2 separate regions of the Homo sapiens genome follow, and region 2 is linked to region 1. The links come from fine-mapping of genetic effects on gene expression. Tissue or cell type: whole blood. Region 1 holds a variant in brackets; the other region holds the start of a gene. All regions are shown on one strand. Distances are between the middles of the regions.

Region 1 (2,766 bases):
TGAGGCTGGAGAATCACTCGAACCCAGGAGGCAGAGGTTGCAGTGAACAAGATTGCGCCACTGCACTCCTGCCTGGGCGACAGAGTGAGACTCCATCTAAAAAAAAAAAAAGAAAATAAAATAATAACAAGACAAAAGACTTGTCAATAAATTGTAATATGTGATCCTTATTTAGATCCTGACTAGAACTCTAACAATTTTTATACTTGTGAAATAACTGAAAATCTGATATTATTTTTACTAATTCTTTTTGAGGCACAATAATACTTTTAGTTTTTTTAAAGAGCTATTATTTCTTAGGAATATATGCTGAAATATTTATGGATAAAATTATATGATATCTAGGATTTGCTTCAAAATAAGATGGGGGATGGCAACTTACGGAAAGTGGGTGGGAGTTTAGATGAAATGAAATTGGCCATAAATTGATAACTACTGAAGCTAGATGATAGGTACATGGAGGTTCCTTACTTTACTCCTGTATATGTTGTTTTAAATCTTCCACAATAAGAGACTGAAAACAAAACTATGAGGCATGGTATTAATTTTAAAAATAAACACTTAAAGACTATAGGTCTTACCTAAGCCCAACATTAATTCCTTCAGACCTGAGGAGAGCTTTTTTTCTTATTAAGCCCAGGAAACCTATATATGTCATCAGTCTGACTTTACACAGTCTCGCTTTCCAGCTCATTTGATACGCTCCATCAGAAATAAATTTTCTATTTAAAATCTGTTTGTAATGATTTGAAATTACCCCCTTGACAACCTATAAAAGGCTTTAACACTTAACTAAAGGAAGAAGAATTCTCAAAAAACAACATCAGGCAAATTCAAAAAGATAAATTCAAGACACTAGTCGATACAGCTGGAGAAGTTACTTTTATTCTTGCAGTTTTATACTAGGAAGTCAACATTTAATAAGCCATCATCCACAATTGATTAAAAATGTTTAATCCTTAAATTGTGCATCAATATCCTATGACTCCAAATTTTATTTATCACTCTCCTTCAAGTCTGAAGAAAATGATTAATTTGCTAAGTTCCACAGA[C/T]AGTACAGTCCCACTGACATAACATTTAGTATGATGTCCTACTCTCATATTAGAATTAAGGACAGCCAGTATCAAACTGGCCTGAAACCTGATTGTGTTCCTGGTTCAGAATACCTGTAGTAAATCTGTAAATCCACACCAAGACACAACATTAAACTAGGGTGTGTATATCTTATAAAAACCTTTTCACAGTAAAAATCAACATTAAAATTTTACCAAATTCCAACATTATGGTTTTTGAATCCAATTAAGCTTTCAAAATGCCTGATTAGCTGTGAATTAATTATAAATAACTTCATGTAGTTTGCCCAGCATTTCAAAATGGTTATGGACTATCATGTTTAAAATGTCAAAGTATGCTATACATATTGCACTTTTCTGCTAGGCTGGGCTAGTATCTTCCATGGCAAGATCCTCAAACTACTGAATAAAATACACTTTTAAATCAATATAGGTACTTGATTAATTTCCCTGAAATTATCAACATCATTACCAAAATCTTCCAGGATTTTGTAAGATTTGATTCCTTAAATACAGTTTTAAAGTTAAACTTATGGAGGGAAAAAAACCCTCATAGATTGACTGTAAATTTTACGTCCTTTTTTGGTCCCTCAATGACCAAAGAGAATTTTAAACAAATTATGCTTCATGTTTCCTGGCTTAATAAAAAGCTACAATTTTTATTATCCAAATTAAGAAATATTATACTAATCAAAAGCTATTAATTTTGAAATGTCTATGTATGTCTGTCTGTAGGTCCCCTTAGAACCTTTCCAAACATTTATAATCAAGAGATTTTAATCAATTATGTACTAGAATCATATTAAAGAAAAACTTATTTTGCAAAAATAAAATCACTTTCCAATATGCTTGACAGAAACAAGCTATTCATTTTCATTTGTGTTCCACTGAAGACATTACTGAAATCTGTCCAATGGTTTATTTCCAAGTGGTCCACTATGGAATTCTTCGGAATGTTTTAAGATTGGCTGTAGCTAGAGTTCTGACTTCCATTTGGACCCTGCTCTCCTTCACTGTTCAAATGGGGAAGAAAGAGATTTTATACCAATTAAAAGATCCATTTTTACACCCTGATAAGCCTACTGACTTTTAAATTCATTATTCTGTGGCACAACTATACAAAACAAAGACATTCCTCATTATAAGACACGTGAAAAATTAAAATCCAGAAGACTAACAAACATTGGTTTTATGTTTTTATTCTTATATAACTTTGTGCCCTCACATATAACAAGCATTCTGGAAGTTAGTGTCCATATATACTCAAAAACTTTAAATTAGGGTATGGGATTTCATTGTTATTACAGGTATCACTCAACATAGAGATTACAGCTTCTTCTAAACAAATTTCCTATAAAATTAAATCTTACATATAAAATCCTATTCCTACTATTTATGAAAAACAAGAAGTGTTCTTCAAAAAAAAAAAAAAACCAAAACTGTTGTCCAAAGGCATAATAAAATCATATATAAATACAGCAAACCTTTATAAGTCAGCAAGAAATATGGTAATTTCCTGGAAAATGCTGAATACTTAAAATAAAAATGCTGAATACTTAAAAATAACTAAAACTGAAAATACCAGTAACTTTGGCAATAGGATTATTGCCTTATCTTGTCCACCATCATCTTGCAGCTTCAGGCCCTGCCACTAGTGGAGAATCACTCAGGGAATTTCTGCAAAAAATGCATC
Region 2 (2,766 bases), 26 kb after region 1:
GGTAAAGCTTCTTTAACATGTCATCTCCACAGAATCACTTTATAGCAAGAGGAAAACCTGCTTTTCCTTAAATAGGTTACTGAGTTCATTGTTTCTTTTTTTCTCTTTGCAAAGGGCTAAAAAATGAACATCAGGAACAGATCCTATTCACAGAATCGAAATTTAAATTACTTACTAATGCTTTCTTAGCATAAAAAATTATACCAAGATACCTTGTCAAATTCTGTTCATCTTTCAACTATACAGTGGAAAGCCTACTCAAATGTTCAATTTACCCCATAACGCACCTTCCTGCCTGCTTAAACAAATGTATTTAGGGATAAATGTTTTTAATATTATTCTAGCTCTCACATGGTCACTGACAGAAACAAGAACTTATTCATGAAAAAGGTTAAAGAAACAGGTAAACAAAGTCACTGGAAAAATAGGCCTTTAAAACAAAATATAAAGCACAGGCTAATGAAATGGATAAATTTAGAGGGCACCTGCCCTATACCTTATCAATATAAAACTCCATCTAGACATAAAGTACGCGCAAGAAGCGGTTAGTAGGCAGAAACAAGCCAGACTCTCTCCTCTCCTCATAATATTAAATCCACTCAAGATATACAGTGAATGACAAAAGACCACGACGCCGATCACCCGAAGAAACCCCAGGTAAAAGCACGCCACAACTGTCCTGAACAGGTAGCCTCACAGTCTTGAGCTGAGTCACACTTCCCGTACCTGTGCCCACTCTATCCGACCCCCCGCGGCCTAGCTAAACCAAGAATCCGAAATTAAACTCCGAAACGTTCCTTCCCGGGAGACGAAACTCTCTCCCACCCCTCCCCCTCACAGATCCTTCCCTCCCCGAAACTGGGGCTGGGGGCGGGGAGGGGAGTCGCCTCAGAAAAGCGCATCTTGATTCTGACCGCTGCGGTCTCCCGTGAGGACCCCGGCACTCGGAACTGAGCTGGGATCCAGGCCCAGGGGAGTCACAGGCCCCGTCCTCACAGCTCCCCCAAAAACCGGCCCCAGGTGAGAAGACGGAAGATCGCTTACTAGTGGGAGCTCTGCCAAAAGTTCCCTGCCATGGAACACAGCTTGCCCTGATAAAAAAGCACCAGCCGGCGGAGCGGCCCGCGGAGCGACCATAGACCCAGCCCGTCCGGTAACCGCGCTCCTCGATCAAATCAGCTCGGCTCGACTCCGCTCCGCGGCGGCGACGGCGAAAGGAAGAGGATGGCCCCCTAGTCTCCTTCACGCCGGCCGACAACACTCAACTGTGCAAACCCGTTCCTATCGACAAAAGTTCCGGCCCGCGGTAGCGGAGGGAGCCGGAGGGGAGGTGCTGACCCTTGGAGGTGCTGAGATTGAAGAGAACTAGTGTTCACGAGAGCTCGCGGCGGTTGGAAGGCTCTCGCGAGAGCGTCTTGAGAATTCTGGCCGGGGGCCCAAGCCGCTCGGTCTCCTGTCTTCAGCACGGGAGTTGCTGAGTGGGTCTAACCTAGGCGAAGTGGCTCAGATACGGGGTTCTGTTATTACCTCTTCCAGGACTTCAAAAACAGAACAATGTGGCATTGTAATAAAGTACAAGGTTTTGTGACTTATTTTTCCTGTGATTGGAAAGAGAAATAAATGAAGATGACTTTGTTCTCAGGGATCAAGTGTTCCTTTTTTTTTTTTACTTTATTTATTTATTTATTTTGAGACGGAGTCTTGCTCTGTCTCCAGGCTGGAGTGCAGTGGCACGATCCCGGCTCACTGCAAGCTCCGCCTCCAGGAGTTCAAGCGATTCTCCTGCCTCAGCCTCCCGAGTAGCTGGGACTGCAGGCGCGCACCACCATGCCCAGCTAATTTTTGTATTTTTAGTAGAGATAGGGTTTCACCATGTTGGCCAGGATAGTCTCAAACTCCTGACCTCGTGATCCGCCCTCCTCAACCTCCCAAAGTGCTGGGATTACAGGCGTAAGCCACCGCACCCTGCCTGTTTTTTACTTTTGAGACGGAGTCTGGGTCTGTCACCCAGGATGGAATGCAGTGGCACAATCTCGGCTCACAGCAACCTCTGCCTTTCCAGTTCAAATGATTCTGCTGCCTCAGCCTCCCAGGTAGCTGGGATTACAGGGATTACAGGCGCGTGCCACCACGTCCATCTAATCTTTGTATTTTTAGTGGAGAGGGGATTTCGCTAGGCTGGTCTGGAACTCCTAACCTCAGGTGATCCGTCAGCCTCAGCCTCCCAAAATGCTGGGATTAACAGGCGTGGGCTACCAGGCCCGGCCTGGATCAGGCGGTTTTTTTTTTTTTTTTTTTTTGAGACGGAGTCTTGCTCTGTCGCCCAGGTTGGAGTGCAGTGGCGCTATCTAGGCTCATTGCAACCTCTGCCTCCCAGGTTCAAGCGATTCTCCTGCCTCAGCCTCCCAAGTAGCTGGGACTACAGGCTCACACCACCACGCCCAGCTAATTTTTGTATTTTTAGTAGAGACAGGGTTTCACCATGTTGGCCAGGATGGTCTCCATTTCCTGACCTCGTGATCCGCCCACCTCGGCCTCCCAAAGTGCTGGGATTACAGGCGTGAGCAACCGCGCCCGGCCGCGATCTTTTTTTTTTTTTTTTTTGAGACGGAGTCTCGCTCTGTCGCCCAGGCTGGAGTGCAGTGGCGAGATCTCGGCCGCGATCTTAATGGAGTTATTTTGGAGTGATAAAGTGCAAACTTACAGAGCAGCGGAATCAACAGTTTTGCAGAACATCTAAAAATATTCATGCATATATGTATGCAC

Evidence for each region. PIP is the estimated chance that this variant, and not a neighbour inherited with it, causes the effect.
Region 2: it holds the start of CCNC, and the variant in region 1 is fine-mapped to the expression of CCNC in whole blood (INTERVAL, PIP 0.99).

What each region holds. Positions count from the first base shown.
Region 1 is chr6:99,541,524-99,544,289 of GRCh38, forward strand. CCNC (cyclin C) reads right to left here. Exons shown (of 12, transcript NM_005190.4): 12 at 864-2,086. The coding sequence ends at 2,032. It also overlaps the pseudogene TSTD3. Among named protein-coding and RNA genes, the nearest start is that of CCNC, 26 kb to the right of the region's middle. The variant C/T (reference allele first, on the strand shown) is at 1,053.
Region 2 is chr6:99,567,452-99,570,217 of GRCh38, forward strand. CCNC (cyclin C) reads right to left here and starts at 1,209. Exons shown (of 12, transcript NM_005190.4): 1 at 1,045-1,209. The coding sequence starts at 1,076. It also overlaps the pseudogene TSTD3. RefSeq lists enhancers at 907-986, 1,107-1,396, 1,517-1,566.